3 linked regions of the Homo sapiens genome follow. The protein of the gene in region 2 purifies or fractionates together with the protein of the main gene of each other region. This does not show direct contact. Each region holds a gene or a part of one and is shown on either strand. Other genes may lie near its edges.

Region 1 (7,859 bases), 5.3 Mb from region 2:
TATAAAATTCGCCGAGCGCCGCGAGCCGTGCTTTGCCAATGGCGCGCTCGGCGCGGGGCGCGGGCTCCGGGTTGGGGCGAGCCAACGCCGGGGTTTCTTTGTGTTTCTGCGAGAGCGACTCTCCCGGTCCGGAGTCAGATAACAGCCTGGGCCCGAGCCTCGCCGGCTTTCCCCGGCCCTTACAGGCCCTGCCCAGGCTCCGCTAGTGCCGGCCGCCTGCTCCCTGCCTCTCCCGGCTTCCTCTCTCTTTAGCCGGCCTCTCTCTCTCCGCCCTCTCCCTCCGTCTCTTTCTCCGAGCACACTGATTAGACAGACGCCAGACCTCCGCTCTCTGCTTGTCTCTCACTGGGGGGGTTCCCCGCCGGGCTGGGGCTGGGGCTTCGGGGTTTGTGGGAGAGTCGTTCCGGAGTGGCCACAGGCCGTCTGGGGTGGACCCTCGTGCCTTTTGCAAAAGCGCCTCACCCTCCCCCCAGACTCGCCCCTCCCGCTCCCTCTCCTCCAATCAATAAGAAATATCAGCTGTTTAGCAGTAAAGAAGAAAGATGCCCTCAGAATGCTACATCCCGCCCACAGCGCCGGGGACCCCGAGGCAAGGTGGCCAATTCTGGGTCCTCGGCGGACCAGCCCCGAGCGGGCCTCGGAGGCAAGTGTGCCCCTCTGGCCCTCAGAGCTCGCCTGGGTGGTGGTTTGAAAGGAATGGTGCCAAGAGCCTGGCGACTCCAGCTCTGTGGCAGGCCTGCCTGGTTCTTGCGCTGCTCAGGGCCTGGGTCAGGTGGGGGTCGGGCTGGGGCAGACCCCGCCGGGGAACCTGGGGACTGAGGCTGGTCATTAACTGTGGAGTGTCTCCTTTCCTCCCCGCAGCGGTGCAGAGGGGCAGGATGCCGCCGACCCAGCCGACCCACGGGCAGTTCGCGCTGACCAACGGGGATCCCCTCAACTGCCACTCGTACCTGTCCGGATATATTTCCCTGCTGTTGCGCGCGGAGCCCTATCCCACGTCGCGCTTCGGCAGCCAATGCATGCAGCCCAACAACATCATGGGTATCGAGAACATTTGCGAACTGGCCGCGAGGATGCTCTTCAGCGCCGTCGAGTGGGCCCGGAACATCCCCTTCTTCCCCGACCTGCAGATCACGGACCAGGTGGCCCTGCTTCGCCTCACCTGGAGCGAGCTGTTTGTGTTGAATGCGGCGCAGTGCTCCATGCCCCTCCACGTCGCCCCGCTCCTGGCCGCCGCCGGCCTGCATGCTTCGCCCATGTCCGCCGACCGGGTGGTCGCCTTTATGGACCACATACGGATCTTCCAAGAGCAAGTGGAGAAGCTCAAGGCGCTGCACGTTGACTCAGCCGAGTACAGCTGCCTCAAGGCCATAGTCCTGTTCACCTCAGGTAGGAAGGAGCCCTGTCTTCTCGTGCCCACGGGCTCCTAGCCCAGAGCTGGGGCCCAGAGAACTTGGGAGTCCCCAGGGCAAACCCAGTCTGCTCCTTGAAAGGCCAAACTGTTGAGTGCAACTTAAAGTGGGAACTTTTTATAGCTGCTGGGCACTACCAGGCCTGTCCTGGGGAGAGGAGAGGAAGGCTGGATTGCAGGAAGGATGCTTCAGATAGATTCCCCACATGGGCCATAGGGCAGCCTCTGCTGCCTGTTTCCCCCACCTGCAGTATCCAGATTGGGATGCCCTCTCCTGCTCCCTTTCCTGAGCCCAGGCCCCCCGGGCCTGCTGGGCCCCAGGGAATCTCCTCAAGCCCTCGGTTTTCTCTAGCGCCCTGGCTGGGCCTCCAGGAGATGCCCTGGGCAGTGGAGCAGCCCTGACATTGTCTCTGCAGGGAAAAGTTTGCCTGCTAACTCAATAGGAGTTGGAGCTCCAGGCAAATCCAACCTGAGGGCAGCAATTTTCAAAATCATATTCTTACTGGAATAATGCAGACTGCCAGGAGAGGCGAAAAGATGTGTCAGGATGGGGCAACAGGAGGAAAGGGACCGTCATAACTCTTCAGAATGTCTGCAGGAGGTTGAAGACTCTGGCCTCTTGCTTCCCCTGCCCAAGCAAACACTTAAGGCAATTTTCAAACAACCCAAAGTGTATGCCAACTTGGGCTGGATATGGATGTTGCTAGAGATATAAAACCATCATTGACTGCATTATGCAATCTAATTAGTTTGCATGTAGTTTAACCTGTGTGAGTAATAGAGCTGATACTAATTAACTTGAGGCAAAATGATTTTTGAAGGTGTCTGGCTTTCCATTTTGGGCCACACCTGAGCTTTTTGGCTGCCTCCAGGCTGAGTTCAGCATAGCCCAGGTGGATGGAAATCACCAACCCCCTTTCACATTCTTGTACTAAGTTGTCAGCTGATCCTTTTGTCATGGCTGAGAGGGGAAAGGGGTTCCCGATTAAGAATAACAAACATCTGGACGTTAGCAGGGCTTGGAACCTAGTCACCCACTACAATTTTTTAAGCTTGTTAACAGGAAACGAGGAGAGATGTGTAGTTTATGTGGCAAACATAAAGGAGGTCCACAATCTCTTCCTTATTGTTCGAAAGAAGTCTGGGGAACTAAGTCATTAGCTGAACAGCTTGCAGCTTCTTAGTCCTCAAACTGCTGTCTTGTACATTGCTGCTTTCCACATAAAACCTCCCAGCACAGCCACCCCAAATTCTGCCTTTGGAAGTCCTTAGGTAATCAATTAAAGGCCAGTGTCTGGGCAGGGAAGCTGTTTGCAGAGGTTTGGATAGGGATTATTTTTCTCGAGTGCCCCTCATACCTAGAACGTTTGCCTGCTGCAGATATACAGACAAGATATCTCCCTACCTCATAGCCACCTTCACCCCTGTCCCACAACCCAACACCCAGCCCACCTTCTTGGACGATGGAGGTAGTCGTTAATTTCTTGGTATCATTGCTAGCTCTTAGCCTTACCCTTGGTCTTTCAAGGAAAAAAAAATGCCTGATACTGTCGTTAACAGTTTAATTTATGACTATTTGCAAAATGTGGAGGCCTGTGTGGAGAATGCAAATCGCCTCACAAAGAGATAAAGGTTCCTGTTATCTGATTCAGAGGGAGACACACAGTTCCGAGGATGCCGAGGGAAGGAGTCCTGTGCAAACAGATCTTTTAGTTCCTGTCCACAGACACCTCTACATTCTGTAGACATGCAGAGTCCTAGATATACATATGAGGAGGTTGCATGTGTGTTCTGGTTCTTGGGGTGGAGGTGGTGGTGGAGATTTTCGAATATCTGTTTTAATGACTCACAATATGCATATGTTAACCCCAGTCTTGTATGGGGAGCCCTGAAAGGTCAGGTCACAACCTGAACCGCCTTTACCAAGAAGCTTCTCATTTCAAAGGCACTTACTGTATTTTCACGTATCAAAAAAGAAAAGTGTTTTCCTGAAGATAACAGGGAGGGGGGATGCTTCTCGGAGGGACCTGGGTTTTAAAAAATAAAGGGGGGTAGGAGAAAAAGGGAGAGAGAAGAAAAAGGGGGAAAAGAAACAGCTCAAATGAACAGAGAGATCACGGTTTGCATGGCTGCCCTTCAATAGGCTAAACTGACAAGATCAGTTTTAAAGGGCCACTTAAATCAGTTTCAAAGACTGGAGAAAAATGAGTCGCCCTCTTTGGGGGGAATCTGAGGCTGGATCGTGGACGCCATTACTCGGGACTGGGCCAGGTTGTCCACCCCCAACCCCCAACCCCTATATAATTATAAGCCAAACTATTATTTACAGAGGAGGAGGGGAGAGAGTGCTGGTAGTTTTGGTTTCTTCTGTTTACTGACTTGGGCCAGACAGACCCAATGCACTTTTGCTTGGGCCTCTCAATGACCCAGGCTAAGGACTCGGGCAGTGAAAGCCTGTAGCACACTGAGCTATGTTTTATTTTAAAGCAAACACTTCCTCAGGACCATCTCTTGCTCTTTCTTCCCCCACCCCGCCTCCCCCCCTTAAGTTTTCAGTACATAGACATTTGCTCCAACTCCGGTTGGGGCAGTTTGACAGAGCTCTGTGCACACACCTCATGTGACCCAATTCAAACCTCTTAATCTGATGACTGAATTCTTCTTCTTCTTCTTCTTCTTCTTTTTCTTCTTCTTCTTCTTCTGTTTTTAAACTTTCTTCCAGATGCCTGTGGTCTCTCTGATGTAGCCCATGTGGAAAGCTTGCAGGAAAAGTCTCAGTGTGCTTTGGAAGAATACGTTAGGAGCCAGTACCCCAACCAGCCGACGAGATTCGGAAAGCTTTTGCTTCGCCTCCCTTCCCTCCGCACCGTCTCCTCCTCAGTCATAGAGCAATTGTTTTTCGTCCGTTTGGTAGGTAAAACCCCCATCGAAACCCTCATCCGGGATATGTTACTGTCCGGCAGCAGTTTTAACTGGCCGTATATGGCAATTCAATAAATAAATAAAATAAGAAGGGGGAGTGAAACAGAGAAAGAAAAGGCAAAAGACTGGTTTGTTTGCTTAATTTCCTTCTGTTAAGAAAGGATATAAAAGGATGTTACAAGTTTGCTAAAAGAAGAGAGGGGAAGAATTTAATGGACTGTGAATTTCAAAAAAAAAAAAAAAGACTGTCAAATGAACTTTTACAGAATGCATTAAAAAAAAAAAAAAACTCCTGTGTCGGTCAGAACAACTTGCTACTTATCATTTTTGTATAAAAAGGAAATTAGTCTTTTTCTTTTTTTGGTAAATTTTTGAAAAATATTGCTAAAAGTGCATTTAAGGAGATTGGGAGACAATTAGCAGAATGGAGAAAGTAAGTCTTTTTTTTTTCCAAATTATTAATTGTCCTGTGTCTATGTACCTCTAGCTGTTCTTTTTTGTACTTTTCTGGTTCCAAACCAGTTTATTCTGTGGTTCTATAATAAGTTTTGATATAATCTTGGCTTCTTAAAAACTGTGTATCATTAAAATATATGTTCTGCAAGAATTAAAACTGAGTCCATGAAAATACCATAGGAAGACATAAAACTTTAAAAGGCAACTCAAAGATGATGGAAACGCACTTACAAGTGGTGACCAAAATTTTTAGGTGAAGTCGAGCACTCTAATTAGAGAACTGGAGGAACCACATATAACACTTAACTTCCCCTACCCTGCCCCTCCCCAAAAGAAACCATGACAAACCTAGCTTTTAAAAAATATTTTAAGAAAGAGAATGAACTGTGGAATTTATTGGCAGCCAAGGAATGTGTCCAAGACACATGCTGAGGTTTTGAATAAAAAGTGAACTTTTGTAATTTGAATTGGGTCCCGCTTAGTTCTTGAATTGTTATGAAAATCCTATATCTGTTTGTATATTTGCAAACCCTTTGTATTATAATTGTTGATATTTTCCCTTTTTAAAAAATACCATTGAAATCAGCATGACAAAAATAACACTGTTGGCACTTATAGGTAACGTGATTGATTCAGTATCTTAGAGTTTACAGTTTGTGTTTTAAAAAAACTGAAGGTTTTTTTTTTAAGTGCAACATTTCTGTATACTGTAAAAGTTATAATAACTGAACTGTTTGGTCGAGTCTTTGTGTGTTATATTCCAAGGAAAATTGAAAGTATTCAGAAATTAAAATATTATTTGATATCTGAAACCTGGCTGTCCCCACTCACTGTCTTTACATCTAGAAGAGCCCCTGTGAGCTCTCGCTTAGCTGGCCGGGCGGGGGGTGGTGGGGGGGGGCATTTGTTTACTCCCCTCAGTCAGTTTGTTCAAAGGTGGACTACTGTATTTGCCTGTTTAATTTGGGTGTGTGTGTGTTGGGGGGGGAGCTGAAGTTAATGGTTTATCTATGGTTTAGGAAGTGCCATACTGATATAGTAAACCACCCCCATTCACCTAATCCTCCTTTTAATTAAAAATGGATTTTCCAGGAAAAAAAAAAAGGCCCTTATATTTGTCACACTTAAGTGCCTGCTTAGGGAAGGTATTGTGAAAAAGTATTAGAAATCTTGAGATCAGTATCTATTTTATGATCAGAAAAAAATACTCTTTTGTACATTTCTGACAGTTACTCAGAAGATCGTTCAAGCAAGCTAATCACAGCATTGTAACTAGAGGACAGTTGTTTGCAGTGAGTTTTTCCTTAAGTAGGTACGATTTTTTAAAATATTCTGTGATTCTACTCTAGCGTGGTTGTTGAGAGAGTTTCAAATTCAGTGATACAGGTTCTAAGACTGAAAGGTCTACTTTTAATGTATATATGATAACTTGCAGTTGGTTTCCCTCTCCCCTCCCCCCCTTTACCTTCAGTCTGTGAGAGCATGACCACAGGGTCAAGGGAATCTTTTCCATTGGAGTTATGTACATAAAAACACATCGACATTTTGACATTTCAGATTGTGTGGCTACAATCTGTACTGCTCTTGGGATCCTTTGTCCTTAGAAGCCAAATTAAGGAAGAGAAAGCAGGACAGAGAAAAAGAAAGAAGGAAGGAGGGAAACTTTACAGGGTGTGCTGATTTGGAAGTAGTAACTATTTCTTTTGGAGTCTTTTTTTCATTTTTCCTCTTTCTCTTTTCCTGGTTTGGAGGAAGCTCGGTGCTGGGAGCTTGCAATTTTGTTCTTATTCAAGGTTTCCAACCCACCCCCCCACCGCCAGTACTTCATCATGTTGTGGTTTAATTCTAATTGGTGGGGGGGGGGGAGGACTAGTGAGGGAGGTGAAAGAACAGGGATAATTTTGTAAAGTGTATTAAACGTTAATATTCAGATCCAGTCAATACATGCAGACCAGTAAAATCTGATTTGTGCAGAGTTCTCCATCTGACTCTCACTTATTTCTGTAGATATATACATATATAAATACAAGTATGTTCTTACGGCACAGTATTGCTGACCTTTAGTTCGAGGTTTTGTCGGTTGTTGTTGATTTTCTTCCTCTTGCAAGTGCTATCCATGTGAGTGTGTGAAGTTTCTCTAATAAGTAAAACACAGGCCCTTTTCCTTGTTTGTTTTGTGTTAGTTTATTGTAAACAGCCATTTGTTGTAAATTATTATTGGCATTAAATTATAATTTATGATTTTCAAAGCAAAAGACAATCCCTGTTTTATTATGCTTTAAGCATGTGTTCTAGACGTTGGAAATCTCTCTCGCACTCTTAAGTTTAAGCAATGAGCTTGGGGTCTGCGAGGCAGAAAAACAGGACCCAAAATTTTTCAACCGGTTAAAACAAACCCCCTTGTATATGTTTAGAGTGGCCGGAGGAGGATCTGTTTAGAGTCTTGAGTTCGGTTTAAGTTTATTGCATTTAAAGAAAGTTTTTCTTTTCACGCTGAGTTAGAACAAAAGATCTTTGCTGCGACTGAATTGGACAAAAGACGAGGGCTGGGACCCAGCGAGCGCGTTCTGTGTGAAATTGACGAGATCTTTAAAAAAGCTGCTAAACATGGCGACTCTTTCCCTTTAAGTGTCTCTTTTTCCTTGCTGGGTTTTTTTTTTTTTTTTTTTTTCATCTGATCTGAGCTCGCTTTATTTCTTTTCCCAACCCCGCTCCCCCTCCTCCTCGTGGCGCTCGGGGGTGTGAGAGAACCCAGTTAGACGCGAAATGCAACAATAGTGCAAGGAGAGAGAGGGGCGCTCGCTGCTTCTCGCCACTTTCAAACAAACCTGGGGGAAGATTGAGCCCGGGGGGGATTCCAGCCTGCTCGCTCGGCTCGCGGTCGCCCTGCCTCGGCCTTTCACCATTAGCTCTCCCTGGGCCGCGAGGAGCTGGGGCTCAAAGTTAGCGGGCGACGTCCGAGGCTTAGCCTCTAGCCGGCTGCAGGGACGGGGGCCTGGAGTTGGCAGCTGCTACGGGAAAGTGCCTGCCCCCCAGCCCCCGCCCCCACTTACGTGCGGCAGAATTCCGC
Region 2 (7,992 bases):
GGAACTATACAAAGGTGTGAATACCAAGAGTGGGGAACAACGGGGTCTTCTTGGAGGCTAGGTACCATAATGTAACAGTAAAGGTGTTTCATTTTCTTCTAGGTATCCAGTGAATTTTTTGAAGAAGGATTTATGGCTGACGTTGACTTGGATCACAGTTGTACACTAAATAAGAAAATACGAAATGCACAGCTGGCTCAGTATAATTTTATTTTGGGTAATTTAAGTTTGTATATATTTTTCCAAATGCTTTTTTTTCCCACTTCAATTCCAAAAGACCAAATAAGAAATATGGTTCAACTACTTGATTATCATGATTTGTCTATTTAATACTTACACAAAAGGAAGAGTCCATAGCATTCCTAGCTTAGCTGTTCCTAGGTACTCTTTGTTGTTTGCTGGAAGAAGAGTTGTAAAGTTTCACCTGAATCCCCTGGGATAGTTTTACTAGCAATAGTTCATATTGCAAGCAAACAACGAAAACAACTCTGAAAATGATCCCATCAGTAGAATTATATACTTTATATTTCAGCCTCACAGGCCTGTAATATTTTCCCTCACTTTTCTGGCTTATTAGGAAACTTTGGGATTAAACTAACAGAAAGAAAAGATCCCAAATTTAAAATGATCTAAAGGAAAAGATTTAGATGAAAAGTAAAATGTCCTTTTAGCATATGACTAATTAGATGCAGAATCTAAAATTTAGGCTTTAAAAATGATTCCAAAATTAAGAGAAACTAACACTGATATAACTGCAGGCACAGTATTGCTATTTCTTGTAAGTTGAGAGTCTGTAGAAGGCGAAATAAATATGCATAGCATTGTTCTATTGACAGTGTTTCAATGATAATGTTTGACACCAGAGTAGGTATTGTGCTGTTTCAGTCAGGCTTCTTATGGTGGCAGAAATCTCAACTTGGTTTAGACAAAGACAGCATTTGTTGGAAGGGTCTTGGAGTATCCCATGACATGAAAGGTAGAATTAAATAGCCAAACCACTAGAAGAGCAATCAGGAGCTCAACCCTCACCAGGAGTATTTCTCCCCATTTCTCGTTCCTGTCTTGCTCTGGTTCTTTATGCTTCTCTTGAATATCTACCTTATTCCACTTATCTGCAGACCGGTTTCTTCCTTCTGTGTGGCAAGAAGCATGGCTGTAGATTCCTGCATCATCTCACAATATGGGTCACTAGAGAGAACAAACTTTTTACCCACATTCCAGAAAGTTCTGGCTGGCTCGCATGGGTCTGGTGTCCACTCCTTGGCTCATCAGGTATGCCAGGTGGAGTCAGCGTGAGCCTGTAAGAGCTCCCCGCTCTCATCTGCACCCTAGTGCCAGGTGGGGTCAGTGTGAGCCTGTAAGAGCTCCCCACTCTCATCTGCACCCTAGTGCCAGGTGGGGTCAGTGTGAGCCTGTAAGAGCTCCCCGCTCTCATTTGCACCCTAGTGCCAGGTGGAGTCACTGTGAGTCTGTAAGAGCTCCCCGCTCTCATTTGCGCCCTAGTGCCAGGTGGAGTCACTGTGAGCCTGTAAGAGCTCCCCGCTCTCATTTGCGCCCTAGTGCCAGGTGGAGTCACTGTGAGTCTGTAAGAGCTCCCCGCTCTCATTTGCGCCCTAGTGCCAGGTGGGGTCAGTGTGAGCCTGTAAGAGCTCCCCGCTCTCATTTGCGCCCTAGTGCCAGGTGGAGTCACTGTGAGCCTGTAAGAGCTCCCCGCTCTCATTTGCGCCCTAGTGCCAGGTGGAGTCACTGTGAGCCTGTAAGAGCTCCCCCCTCTCATTTGCACCCTAGTGCCAGGTGGGGTCAGTGTGAGCCTGTAAGAGCTCCCCCCTCTCATCTGCGCCCTAGTGCCAGGTGGAGTCACTGTGAGCCTGTAAGAGCTCCCCCCTCTCATTTGCACCCTAGTGCCAGGTGGGGTCAGTGTGAGCCTGTAAGAGCTCCCCGCTCTCATTTGCGCCCTAGTGCCAGGTGGAGTCAGTGTGAGCCTGTAAGAGCTCCCCGCTCTCATTTGCACCCTAGTGCCAGGTGGGGTCAGTGTGAGCCTGTAAGAGCTCCCCGCTCTCATTTGCGCCCTAGTGCCAGGTGGGGTCACTGTGAGCCTGTAAGAGCTCCCCGCTCTCATTTGCGCCCTAGTGCCAGGTGCAGTCAGTGTGAGTCTGTAAGAGCTCCCCCCTCTCATCTGCACCCCAGGACCACAAGAGCTGTTCTCTCAGGTGGACAATAGAGAGATGGGATCAGAAGTCATTGCTTCCCTCAAGAAACTTAACTATCAGAGGATGAACCAAATGCTCATTAGATGATATTTAATATTAGTGAAGAAAAACTTGATAAAAACATGTCATGGGACTGCTGACTTAATGTTTGGTAAATTGCTGATTTAAAATACATTTCTTTACCTTTCTTTTCTGCAGTGGTTGGAGAAAAGGAAAAGATAGATAATGCTGTAAACGTGCGAACAAGAGACAACAAAATTCATGGAGAGATTTTAGTAACTTCTGCCATTGATAAACTGAAGAATCTCAGGAAGACACGGACACTCAATGCTGAGGAGGCCTTTTGAAGTCCTTCCCTGATATTTGCTTCTGTGTAACTTTGTTTTGACCCTTAAAAATGTATTTTTCTTAACATGTTAGTACTTCTACGACTTTGGAGCCACTGATGGGTCCACTCATGGCCTCAGCTGAGAAAGGAGACGATGAACGTGTAGCTGACATGCACGAAGTTTAATTTACTCATGTCCACGGGGGACGTTTAGAGGGCACGTGGGAAATTTTCCAGCAATCAATGCCTTGAGAAACTTAAATGGGGAAATATTATTCATCGAGAAAGTGAAACAAAACACTAGGAAATGATTATGAAATGTTAGTGATTTTCAAAAGATGGGCTTCAAATAAAAGTCTGCAGAGTTTTTTTTAAATAGGAGGGAAAATCTTATTTTCTAATATGTCTCAGGTATTTTTATGACTTCTACTAAAATTCACACTGAAACTTTATCTTCTAAACTGGAATCATTACTTAATTTTAACTAACCAACAACCACAAAAGCAGCAGCTACTGCTAAATATTGGATTACTGACAAAGGAATTCAGTTTTGTGGAATCTGGTGTTTGCACTATAGGTTAAGAGTTGCCATTTAAATGTTTCTTATTCATAATTAGGTTTTGTTCCGCTTTAGAAAAAAATAAATTCCCAAATGAATTGCATCAGTGTTTCCAGCGTTTCAGCTGTGGGCTTCTACCACCACTAAGCCGCTCACCTAGAGTTGTTACTTTTTTGATGGGATGACATTCCATGGATTTATGTACTGAAATGGATTTCAGATTTTAAAGAGAGGAATGCTCTACGTGCTCAGAACTGAATTAAAATGGCATTATGTCAATAGAGAATTCAGCTACCAAACAAGAAGTATTGTTTATTTTGCGATATGCTGTGAAATTCAAAAGAAATGTAAGAAATAATCTCTTTTCAATATACTGATCATTTAGTTAACTTCCTGAGGGATGTGAACAGTGAAACAGTTGGCAAACAAAACAATATATATCAGGCTTGTGTAGTAGTATAAGGTGCAGATTGTGTGATATGATTTTTATTATTTATTTTTTGAGACGGAGTCTCGCTCTGTCACCCAGGCTGGAGTGCAGTGGCGCGATCTCGGCTCACTACAACCTCCGCTTCCCGGGTTTAGGCGATTCTCCTGCCTCAGCTTCCCCAGTAGCTGGGACCACAGGCGCGTGCCTCCACGCCTGGCTAATTTTTTTGTATTTTTAGTAGAGACAGGGTTTCACCGTGTTGTTAGCCAGGATGGTTTCGATTTCCTAACCTCGTGATCCGCCCGCCTGGGCCTCCCAAAGTGCTGGGATTACAGACGTGATTCACCGCCCCCGGCCGTGATACGATTTTTAAAGCTAACATTCAGGGCTTATGTGCCGGCACTTTTCCATGTATTTTTTAAAAAGTCATTCAGCAAACATGCACGTGAGGGGGTGGTAGTCAGAAGACCGCGGAATGAACGATCCCGAAGCACGTGGGTGGGAGGAGAGCACCTGTCACCAGCGCTTTCTCCCAGGTGTGCTGTGACAGAAACCGGCAAGGGTCTCCGCAAGCTGGGGCCTGAGCGCGGCTCCCCAGACGGCCGCGACCTTCCCCAGGCAGGGCTGGGCTCTGGACCCTCCCCTCACTTCCCAGCGCCTCGGGCCATCCTGCTTCTCCAGGCCTGAGAGGAACTTTCTGGAAGTGCTGCGTATCTTCAAGAGGCCGGCCAGAAGTGAAAGCCGCGGCAGGCCTGAGCGCCGGCCCCAGGGGAGGGGTCCCTCGGGCCCTCGTCGTCCCGGGGCCGCTTCCCCGACTGTAAATAAGTGTCTTTAGGATGAAACGCCACGCGATAGTGTCCTCGGAACCTTCGCACGAGATCCAGCACACAACATCCGACCACACACTGGGGCGGCCAGCCTCCCGCGTTCGCCCGCCTCTGCTCTTGGTTGCTTCGGGCGCGCATTTCGGTCCACGGATGACCTTTAACAGGTCTCCTGCAGTGGAACCAGGGGTGAGGGCCTCGTCCAAGGGCGTGAGGGGCGCGTGGAAATGGAACAACCTCCCAGGCTCGCATCCTCCTCGGGGACCTCCCAGAAGGCTCAACCGGAAGAAAACCCGCGACCCGCGCGAGGACAGCGAAAGCGCAAACGCCGGCCGCCAGGAGTCGCAGCGCGCCTGCGTCCAGTTCACGCTCCGGCTCCCAGGCGCGCCCCGCCCCCCGGCCCGGAAGTGCGCAGGCGCTGGCAAGATGGCGGGAGGGGTGCTCCCGCTGAGGGGCCTCCGCGCCTTGTGTCGCGTGCTGCTCTTCCTCTCGCAGTTCTGCATTCTGTCGGGCGGTGGTGAGTCAAAGGCTGGGTTCAGCGCCGGGTGGGGCTGAGTGGCAGCAGGGCCCCGGGAGCTGCGAGGAGGCCGGGCCCACGGGCGGACGCTGACGCGGGGAGGAGGCCGAGTGCCGGGCTCCGGGCCGCTTGTCGCTGCATCTGGAGTCTGGCGCCCTGGCCGCCCGGCCCGAGGCCGCCCCTCCGCTCCGGCGACACCGAGCCCGCCATCGCGGCTGCGGAGCCCTGGCACGGAGATGGAGCGCTTGGGGGCTGGGCCGGGGAGGCGGAACTGGAGCGCGATGTCATCCTTCGGTCCCTCGTTGCCGGCTGACCTGAACTGATGTCTACTCTGTTGACGTTTCGTCCCTAAGCTTTGTGTTTTCTGGCTGACCAGCCGTGAGGTTTTCATGAGCAGCTTATTGGCCTGGTGTAGACCCGCCGTGTTAACCACACAAAATAAGGTTTTCTTGTCCCGGGATAACGTGTTTCTCTAATTGTACGATCCTTAAATTTAGAGCAATCGCAGGCGCTGGCTCAGTCAATAAAGGATCCGGGCCCAACACGCACATTCACAGTAGTTCCCAGGGCAGCAGGTACTAGACGTTTTCTATTCTAGTAAATACATGTAGTTATCTCTAGTAGTTTCTCTTTGTTTTTATAAAAATTCCCTTTAGTATACGAAGTCACTTTCCATTTTTGAATATTTATTGTATTTTAGATTATGTGAATTAAGGGTAGATACACAGCCATTTTCAGTAGATAGTCTTCGTATTTATACCTTTTGACGTTTCTGCCTCCTCTCTTTTTCCAATCCCACGCTCATTTGTCACCTTATTTCTATTATTTTTCCACTTCATCCATCAAAATAACCTTCAGTCCGTGCTTCTTTCCCTTCAGCAAATTTCCTCTACTGCTAAAACCCTGTTCCTGATGTTGGAATATTAAAGGCTCCCTCAGGACTGTGGAAATGGAAGGATTACAGCGGGACTGATGGAGACTTGAAATCTAGATCTGGTTTTGCTACTGGGATCTTGAACAAATTATTTATCCTCTTTGGACCTTGGTCCTCATCTTTAAAGCGGTGGGGTTGGTCTGACGACCTAAAGTCATTTCTGCTTTGTGATTCTAAGTGTCCACCTTCCAGCCACATAGTCACGGGATCAAAAAGAGTATTTTGTAGAATTGTTCCTTAATACAGTGAGTAAAGTAGGACCAGTTTTAAACAAGCATTAGTGTGTTTTGCTAGGTGGAGGCTCTGACTATAATTTCATCACTTTAAAGTGACATTACTTCAGTGAATTGAAACTGGCAGAGATATTTTACTGATTCTTATTTGGATGTAAAAAACAGCAGTGCACTTGAATTTTAAACTCAGATTACTTTTTAGAGAAAGCACAAGAGTTCTTAACTCTTGCAGGCTTTTGAAAGCCCTTCTTTTCAGGAATACTTGCAATTTTGATCCTTTCAGTTGGTAAAAATACATTGCACACTCATTAGGTTGGTTGGAAATAAGTTGCAGCTTACTGAAGATGTTATTAAAGTAGAGAACTGTTTTGAACTTTGGTAGCGTAAAACTGTAAATATTATATTAGCAAATGTGGCTTATCGAAGTACCAGTGTGAAATAATGACATTTTAAAGTTGATGCCCTGAGGATGTCAGTGGCTTCATTTCTGAATTAGTGAATTCAGATGAAAAGAACACGGGATTGGAAATGGAGAGATTTGGGTTCTAGTTCCAGTTTTGCCACAGACTTCCTCTGTGATTTTGCAAAACCCTACTGTAAGTTTTTTTTCAACTTACAAAATGATAGTCTTTTTTTTAAGCCCTTAATGTATACCCAGAATTTTCTATACATTATTTGTATATGAGCACCTTTAGTTTTCACGGCCACGTGGGAGGCAGGAATGAAGTAATGTTTTACAAGTGTGGTGCTCACCAGGTCCCACAGCTGGCCGTGGGCAGAATTCTGCTTTAATTGCAGGTGTCTCTGACTCCAGTCCCATGCTTCTTCCCTTCCAGTGCAGTGTCTACTTGCTAATGATCACGTCTCTTAACCTTAGAAGATTGTTCTCTGTTATTCGAATCAGTATTATAGGAGAATAAGCTTCTCTCTTGCCTCTCACAGAAAGTACTGAAATCCCACCTTATGTGATGAAGTGTCCGAGCAATGGTTTGTGTAGCAGGCTTCCTGCAGACTGTATAGACTGCACAACAAATTTCTCCTGTACCTATGGGAAGCCTGTCACTTTTGACTGTGCAGTGAAACCATCTGTTACCTGTGTTGTAAGTACTGCAGCTTACTTATTCTAAATAAATTCATTGTAAACTTTAAGTTAGAAGAACAATTCAGACTTGATTATTGGGAAGAAATTCTGAAGAATTTTTATATTCTTTTATGATTTCCCTTTTGAGTATGTAAGCAGAAATAAATTAAAAAACCCAATAGACCTTTCCATATCAGCTCACTACTGTTTTAGTTATAATGATAACTGTCAAGCCAGTTGATGTCTGCTGGAAATGCACTTGACAGAAATGTTGCTTTGTAGGACTGGAGAAGATCTCAGTCTACTAGCATATCTGAAGCAAGTCTAATTCGTTCAGATGGATTCTGTGTTCTCAATAGTGACAGCTAGTGTACAGAGGGGGTGGCAGTGTCTTTCTGCCATAGATGAGCTTTTGAAGGGCCAGTGCTTATCTGTGGTGAGAAGATGGATTCAGTAAATGCCGGAATGCCTGGTAGCTCTCTAGAACAAAATTAAGTGGAACGCCTGTCTTATCCAGAATAAATTCCAGATAGTCCAAAGATGTAATGTGAAAAATGAAACCCTGAAGTACCACAGAAAACACCAGATAGTTGCTGTTATAATCCCAAAATGGAGAATATTTTTCTAAGTATGAAATAAAGTTTAGAAGCCATAAAATAAAGAATTGATACATTTGACTCCTAAAAATTGGAGATTTCTGCATGACCTAAAAAAAAAAGCATAAAGGCAAAAGACATGGCAAACTAGGAAAAAGCGTTTCTAGAATATGTGACAAATAATACAGTAATATCAGTAATATATAAACACTTCCTAAAACCCACACGGAAAAGATGACAGTCTTGTAGAAAAACAGTGTTAGGACATGAGCAGATGGTT
Region 3 (7,859 bases), on a different chromosome or scaffold from region 2:
GAGGAAGTGAAGTGGGTTACAGATGCCACTGGGGCAGAAGAAATGCCGTGACAAGAGAACTAGAAGGAAATAAATGAGAGTAACAGGAAGCAATGGTCAGGGTGGGATACTTAAAACTGAAATTATTGCAGGTAATTTGTTCTTATTAATTGCAAGGTCTACTAGGGTATGTCTATGAAAATAAATGTTTAAGGCATGATAGAAAACAGGATAATGGGAAGAAAGGAAGTAAAACTGAGAGGCCAAGTTACTAGAATAACCATCTATGTGAATATGGCAATCACCAAGACTTAAGAAAGGACAAATGTTAGAGAGAGTGCCAATGAGCCAGGAATTATCTTCAAAAGACTAGGTGTGTGTTTAACCGCAAAGAAGAGGCATAGAAGTGGCACAATGTGATGACATGCATTCAAAGGGGGGATTTTAGGGAAGAGGACGCATTGGAAGCTGCAAAGGAGAGACCCATCTCTACCTGTAGTACCGGAGTAATGAAGGCTGTGAGAGAAACATCAGCCACCACTTGCAGTCTGCAGTGGAAATATGTCCTCAGAGGTTATGGTCAGGTTTCACTTAGGGTAAGAAAGAGAAGGGATGTTCCCCTTCCTGTGTCCATGTGATCTCATTGTTCAATTCCCACCTATGAGTGAGAATATGCGATGTTTGGTTTTTTGTTCTTGCGGTAGTTTACTGAGAATGATATATCCCTTGGGGAAAATATTGCCTAAGTATGCAGGAAAAAAAAAAATATATATATATATATAAAACATTAATAAGAGAGATTAGATTGATTTATAGCTATGCTATAAATGAAATGAGATAGATTTTATATTGTCTTATAACCTTATATGGTAAATGTTCATATTACAAAGTTAAATAAAAGTTTCAGTGGATCCAATTTGTTGTTTAAAAAAAAAAAAAAGAGAAGGGAATGTTCATAGAGATGGCTAGGTTATAGGGGACTTTGTGGATGGCTGACAATGACTGGGCTGCAGGCAAAGACTAATTAGGAGGTCAAGGCTGCAGCCCAGCCCAGATGAATGTCAATCATTCACATAACAAAACATGCCACGCCAGGCCCTGGGCTGGGTCTGGTTACCAAGGGGTGAGTGAGAAAGTCCCACCTGGGCTTAGGTTTCTACTGTATAGTGAATGGTAAAGGAGCTCACACTTTGGAGGAGGGGGCGGGCCCAGGAGGAGACACAGATATTAAATAATTATAGCTCCATGTGGTAACTAACAGAGGTAAGCATAAATGCTTTTAAGAATAACTAGGATGGGCTGGGCGTGGTGGCTCACACCTGTAATCCCACCACTTTGGGAGGCCAAGGCTAGGCGATCACTTGAGGTCACGAGTTCAAGTCCAGCCTGGCCAACATGGTGAAACCCCATCTCTACAAAAAATACAAAAATTAGCCGGGTGTGGTCGTGGGTCCGTAATCCCAGCTACTCAGGAGGCTGAGGCAGGAGAATCACTTGAAGCCGGATGAGGAGGTTGCAGTGAGCCAAGATCGCGTCATTGCGCTCCAGCCTGGGTGACAAGAGTGAAACTCCATCTCAAAAAAAAAAAGAATAACTAGGACCACCTAATTTAGACTAAGGCATGTTAAGGAAGACTAAGGTATGTCAGGGAAGGCTTCTTGGAAGTAGGAGTGAGCCAGGTTACAGAAAGATAGCTAAGCCAGAGAGAAGAATATGTTTAAAGGTACGGGGTCACTGGAAACTTGGATAACTTAGCATATTGCAAATTCCATAATATTGCCAGAGTAAGAGAATGTATTTTGAGAGGGGCATAAAAGAAAGCTGGAGATGTCACTAGGGGATGAATGCTGTAATACTTCATATGCTGAAGGAGTTTAGACTGTATAATGAATTTGCTGGGGAGTGACAAAATCACTTTTTGCGAGAGAGTCACATAGCTTGTGTTGTCTGCACGTGGCAACTAGTAGTCTGTGAAACCTTTCATTGCCATTTTCACATCACATGACCTGGCAGTGGGAATAAGACATCAGAATCAGCCACTGTTAAGCTACTAAATCAGTCGGTGAGGTGGGGGAGGGAGAAGACATCAGCAGAAAGCCGGGAAGAGAGCAAGAACATTCACATTCCACTCCACCAACAATACGGCAGTTGGTAAAAATCAGCAGGAAACGTGAAAAAAATCAGAACCCTTGTACACTGCTAGTGAGATTGTAAAATAGGGCAGCCACTTTGGACAACAGTCTGGCAGTTCATCAAACAAAGAGAGTTAGCATACCATACAAGTCTTCTCCCAGGTGTATTACCCAAGAGAAATGAAAACATGTCTACCTAAAAACATGTACACAAATATGTATAGCAACATTATTCATAATAGCCAAAAAGTAGAAACAACCCAAATGTCTGTCAACAAATGGATAAACAAAATGGAATGTTACTTGACCATAGAAAGGAATGAAGTACTGATACATGCTACAACATGAACGAACCTTGTGTGCAGTATACATAGGAAGTAATTGCACTAAGTGAAAGAACCCAGTTATAAAAGACCACATATTGTATGATTCCATTCATATGAAATGTCCATAAAAGAGAACAGAGAAAGTAGACTGGTGGTTGCCCAGGGCTCAGGCAAGTGGGAGGATAGGGAAGTGATTAGCTAGAGTACAGAGGTTTTTTTTTTGAGGTGATGAAAATGCTCTAAAATTGACTGTGATAATGGTTGCAAATATCTGTAAATACTACTAGGTACTTTTGAACTGTACACTTTAAATGGGTGAACTGTATGTATGGTAGGTGAATTATATAAAAGTTCTTAAAAAATACAAAAGTCAGAATAAAAATAATGAAATTATAATGCCGCTAGGTTTTAGAATTCTGCAACTCAGCTTCAGTGGCCTGGTAGAGGATGCAGATTATGATGGCTGAGGCCAAAGGGCAGCTAGAAGCCCTGTCAGGAGATAAGCAAGAACTCAGCTGCAACAACAGAATGAAGGTCTGCTTCCCTTTCTCATAGGCGCTTCTACAAGTTGGCAATGAGACAGTCTGTATGGCACAGATGCTACACTTAACTTCATATATAAATAATTGTACCTATAATTTGTGCGGCTATTATGCACCAGTTAAGTATAATAGGTTTTTAAGATAGTGACTACGAGTATGAATTCTGGTTTCAAACTTGGGCTGGAATTCCTGCTCTACCACTTTTGGGCTATATGATACTGGAAGAGTTGATTTAAACTTTGGGCCTGTATTCTTATCTATAAAATGAGTGTTCTAAAACTTAATGAGATAATGCATTTAGCAGAATACCCAACATACAGTAAATGTTCAATAAACATTTGCTATTATTATAATTGGTATTTCATCTTCCCAGAAACTCTAGGCATCATTTTTGACCCCACTAAACCTCAGATAATTTATATGATTTACCCAAAGTTATACAGCTAGAAAGAAACTGAATTGGAACATGAACCTAGTTCTTGGTACCTACAAAACACATGTGTGTCAGCTGCACAAAGTTATACCTGACACTGGTCAGAAACAGACTCTAGATTGTGCTTTTTTTGAGTTGCCCAGTGCACTGCTCCAGATATTCTTGATTGTATTCGTGGAGAGAAGACAGGATCATAGAAGACACAGAAGCTAATGGAATTCTTCAAAGATAACTGATCTCACATCTTTGGCCTTTATACTTTTGTATGCTTAATCGTCTCTGTTAACTGGCCACAGGAAAAAGTACCTTCTCCCACAGTTTATCCTCAGAGCATTTCTGTGATAACGCAATCTCAGAACTATAGGGCTAGGACAAACCTTCTAGATCATCCATACTCCTTTCTTCATTTTATATGACTAGCCCTATGATCCACATAGAGTAGGCACATAATAAGTCTTCTGTTGATAATGACAACATGCCAGGGCAAATCCAACACCAGGATTTAAAAATCTGTGAGGATAGTCATACCTTTTAAGACTGGAGGACAGCTGCCAAATATCATCAGGATCCATTCCTGTAGGATCTTTCCTGTGGGCCACGAGAAAGATGCTCTTCTCCTTATATGAGGTATAAATGGTCAGAATCCCCATCATCACAAAATAGGTTCAAATAAAGTTAAGGGGAAAATACCCAAACATAAAAGAGAAGTAACACAAATTGACAAGCAACAGATATAAAAACTTTCATAATGATAGTCCTAAAGAAGACAGCTTTGTCTTGCTGCCAAAACACTGAAAATTTAGCTATTTCATTTTCATCCTTATGTTTATATACCAAGAGAAGCAAGGCTCTCTCTGGTTAATTCTGCAAACACCTCAGAAAGGAAGAAAAGAAAAAGATACAGAGCATAAACTAGCTCTCATCTTTATGTTCAAAGACAACATGTATAATAAGATACCTAGTTTGTCAAGACTTTGTTATAATAGTGCTTATTTCTTTATAAAAAACAACGAATAGTCCCAGTGGACTTGACCATGTTCAACTGATTTTAAGGGTTATTAAGAGAAGAAAAGTGACCCAAATAGTTTACTATAAGAGAGTATGTCAAATAGTACTACGATTACTTCCTATATGCATATAGACTTATTATTATATTGTTTTTGACAGTATTAAGTACCATAGTTAATAAGCACTTATAGTTTGCCAAAAACTGGCATAAGAGCTTTGTGTATACTGTGCCATTTAAATTTCATAAACAAGGCTGGGCACGATGGCTCACACCTTTAATACCAGCACTCTGGGAGGCCGAGGCAGGTGGATTGCTTGAGACCTGGAGTTTGAAACCAGCCTGGCCAACAAGGAACAATGGGAGACCCCATTTCTACTAAAAATACAAAAATTAAGGCTAGGCGTGGTGGCTCACACCTGTAATCCCAGCACTTTGGGAGGCTGAGGTGGGCAGATCACTTGAGGTCAGGAGTTCGAGATGAGCCTGGCCAACATGGTGAAACCCCATGTCTCTACCAAAAATACAAAAATTAGCTGGGCATGGTGGTACATGCCTGTAGTCCTGCTACTCAGGAGGCTGAGGCATGAGAATGGCTTGAACCCAGGAAGCAGAGGTTGCAGGGTTGCAGTGAGCCGAGATCGTGCCACTGTGCTCCAGCCTGTGTGACACAGCAAGACTCTGTCTCAAAAAAAAAAAAAAACAAAAAAAACCCACAAAAACCAAAAAAAAATTAGCTGGATGTAGTGGTGCAGGCCCGTAATCCCAGCTACTTGTGTGGCTGAGGCAGGAGAATCACTTGAACCTGGGAGGCAGAGGCTATAGTGAGGCAAGATCGTGCCACTGCACTCCAGCCTGGGCAACAGAGTGAGACCCTGTATCAAAAAATAAAAATAAAATAAATAAAATAAAAATAAATTTCATGAACAGTGCTCGCTTCGGCAGCACATATACTAAAATTAGAACGATACAGAGGTTAGCATGGCCCTAGCACAAGGATGACAGGCAAATTCATGAAGCATTCCATTAAAGAAGAGTTAAAAAATAGATAAATTTCATGAACAGGAAAGGCAGGAAAATATAGTACAAAGTATATGGACTTTAGAGTAGAGATAATCCTAGATTTAAATCTTGGCCTTTAATCAGTATGATTGTAACAAATAACTTCCTTCCCCAAGTCTTAGTATCCTTACCTTTAAAATTGGGATAATACTGATGTTTTAGAATTATCATGAGATTTAGAGATGAAGGATATATGCAGTCTAGGATACAGAAGACTTTTTTTTTTGAGACAGGGTCTCACTCTGTCACCCAGGCTAGAGTACAGTGGCATGATCTCAGCTCACTGCAGCCTCAACATCCCAGGCTCAAGCAATCCTCCCATCTCAGCTTCCTCAGTAGCTGGGATTATAGGTGTGTGCCACTACACCCAGCTAATTTATTTTTTATTTTATCTAATTAATTTATTTATTTTGAGACAGAGTCTTGCTCTATCGCCCAGGCTGGAGTGCAGTAGCAGATCTCGGCTCACTGTGACTTCCGCCCCCTGGATTCAAGTGATTCTTGTGCCTCAGCCTCCCAACTATCTGGGACTACAGGCATGCGCCACCATGCCCAGCTAATTTTTGTATTTTTAGTAGTGACAGATTTCTCCAAGTTGCTCAGGCTGGCCTTGAACTCTTGGGCTCAAGTGATTCGCCCGCCTTGGCCTCTCAAAGTGTTGGGATTACAGGCATGAGCCACGATGCCCAGCAACAGAAGACATTTATAATGGTAGTCCCTACATTATAAATAAAACTGACATGACAAAAATAAGACCTTGTTTTATTAAACAAATATAACCAAACAAATGAATTACCATCAAGGTAGTTCTCTTGGGAGGCCAGATATTTGTAATAATGTTGCTATCATTTTCAAATCTCTTTGGAATTCCCCTGGGAACTGTCTCTAGAACCTATGGAATATTATTCTTCTGAACTGCCTTAATAGTGAAAAATTCATACTGGGATGATTAATCTGATTACTGAAAGGAGTCAAGGATCACCTGGTGCCACTTCTGGGGGAAATGTGGGGCAATCTGGATAATACAATTTTTGACTAGGATCTGCTTTATCAGAGGTTTGCTAACTGCCTCTGAAGATAAATCCCCAACATGAAGTTTTAAAACATATTTCAGGTTGGCTGGGCACAGTGGCTTATGCCTGTAATCCCAGCACTTTGGGAGGATTGCTTGGGCCCAGGAGTTTTGAGACCAGCCTAGGCAACGTAGTAGGACCTTGTCTCTGTAAAAAATTTAAAAATTAGGCAGACATGGTGGCATGTGCCCGTCTACTCAGGAGGTTGAGGTGGGAGAATTGCTCGAGCCAGGAGGCTGACGCTGCAGTGAGTCATGATCACACCACTGTACTTCAGCCTGGGTGACACGGTAAGACCCTGTCTCAAAAAAAAGAAAACAAAACAAAATTTAGGTAGTGGTAACATTGTTTAAAAAAGTAAACTACCAACCAAAATTACCTATTTTAATAGTGAAGTATAATTAAGTTCTTTATATTCAACTTCTTGAGAAAAAAAATCACGCTGGGTAGGCAACGACCATGATCTTACATTTATCATAAAAAAGAGGGGAAAGGAAATGATTATGTATCAAATACAATATAAAATCTCTCATTTAATCTTTATGATAATTCTGAATGCTACCCATATTTATAAATGAGTGGTATTCAAATCATCTCAAAAATAAGTAAATTTTCATTAGCACAAGATCACAGATACCTTGGATTTCAAACCCATATTCTCTAGCTCCAGAATAAGTTCTTAATTCCACTGTAATACAAGCCACACTTGTATCTCATGCTCAGTACTTTCCAGTTCAGCTCCTCAGCTTCAAGTAAACTTAATACAGATCTGAGTCTCCAAAATCAGATCCTTTCCTAATATCCTAGAATGAGTGGCTTGAAGCAGCCACGTCTAACGGGAAAAGTTCTGGGCTAGAAATGAGAAGAGCTGGGTTCACTATTACTATGTGTTTTGCTATTAAGTGCTCATATTAGGACAATAACCTCTACATTAATAACAAAAATGAATTACGATAAAATAACCATACAAAACATAAAATATCAGTGACAGTTACTATATAAACTGATAGATATTTACTATATAAACATCACAGCTCAAAATGTTGAATTCTAACATTAGCAAGCCCTAATATGAAAGTCCGTTTTGTTTTTTGTAGGGAGAAATATCAGCAGATTTAAAAAAATAGTCACTAGAAAACAACCTGAGCATAAATAAAGGATATGATATGACACACAAAGCCAAAACGGGTTTGGACTCTGGAAAGGGGTGCATATAATCCCAAATCAAAGCCACTATGGCAAAGAAACAGGAGATTGTACAGATGGTGAGGCGACCATCAATTAGACCAAAATTCTCCACATATTT

Evidence for each region. The genes of interacting proteins can lie anywhere in the genome.
Region 1: the proteins of TM2D3 (region 2) and NR2F2 purify together in Homo sapiens (affinity purification with mass spectrometry; 2 studies listed by BioGRID and IntAct, with this or other methods). This does not show direct contact.
Region 3: the proteins of TM2D3 (region 2) and SPCS2 purify together in Homo sapiens (affinity purification with mass spectrometry; 3 studies listed by BioGRID and IntAct, with this or other methods). This does not show direct contact.

The regions. Positions count from the first base shown.
Region 1 is NC_000015.10:96,333,215-96,341,073, forward strand, and holds the end of NR2F2 (COUP transcription factor 2), read left to right. Parts: intron 1-46; exon of another isoform or gene 47-93; intron 94-550; exon of another isoform or gene 551-643; intron 644-861; coding exon 862-1,389; intron 1,390-4,133; coding exon 4,134-4,408; 3' UTR 4,409-7,044; downstream 7,045-7,859. UniProt on the Homo sapiens protein: Ligand-activated transcription factor. Activated by high concentrations of 9-cis-retinoic acid and all-trans-retinoic acid, but not by dexamethasone, cortisol or progesterone (in vitro). Regulation of the apolipoprotein A-I gene transcription.
Region 2 is NC_000015.10:101,649,147-101,657,138, reverse strand, and holds the start of TM2D3 (TM2 domain-containing protein 3 isoform a precursor), read left to right. Parts: upstream 1-4,757; 5' UTR 4,758-4,777; coding exon 4,778-4,868; intron 4,869-5,365; coding exon 5,366-5,443; intron 5,444-6,977; coding exon 6,978-7,135; intron 7,136-7,992. Other genes in the region: TARS3 (threonine--tRNA ligase 2, cytoplasmic), read left to right, coding at 103-217, 2,409-2,557. UniProt on the Homo sapiens protein: Probable positive regulator of Notch signaling.
Region 3 is NC_000011.10:74,965,781-74,973,639, reverse strand, and holds part of SPCS2 (signal peptidase complex subunit 2), read right to left. Parts: coding exon 7,717-7,859; intron 4,076-7,716; coding exon 3,941-4,075; intron 1-3,940. UniProt on the Homo sapiens protein: Component of the signal peptidase complex (SPC) which catalyzes the cleavage of N-terminal signal sequences from nascent proteins as they are translocated into the lumen of the endoplasmic reticulum.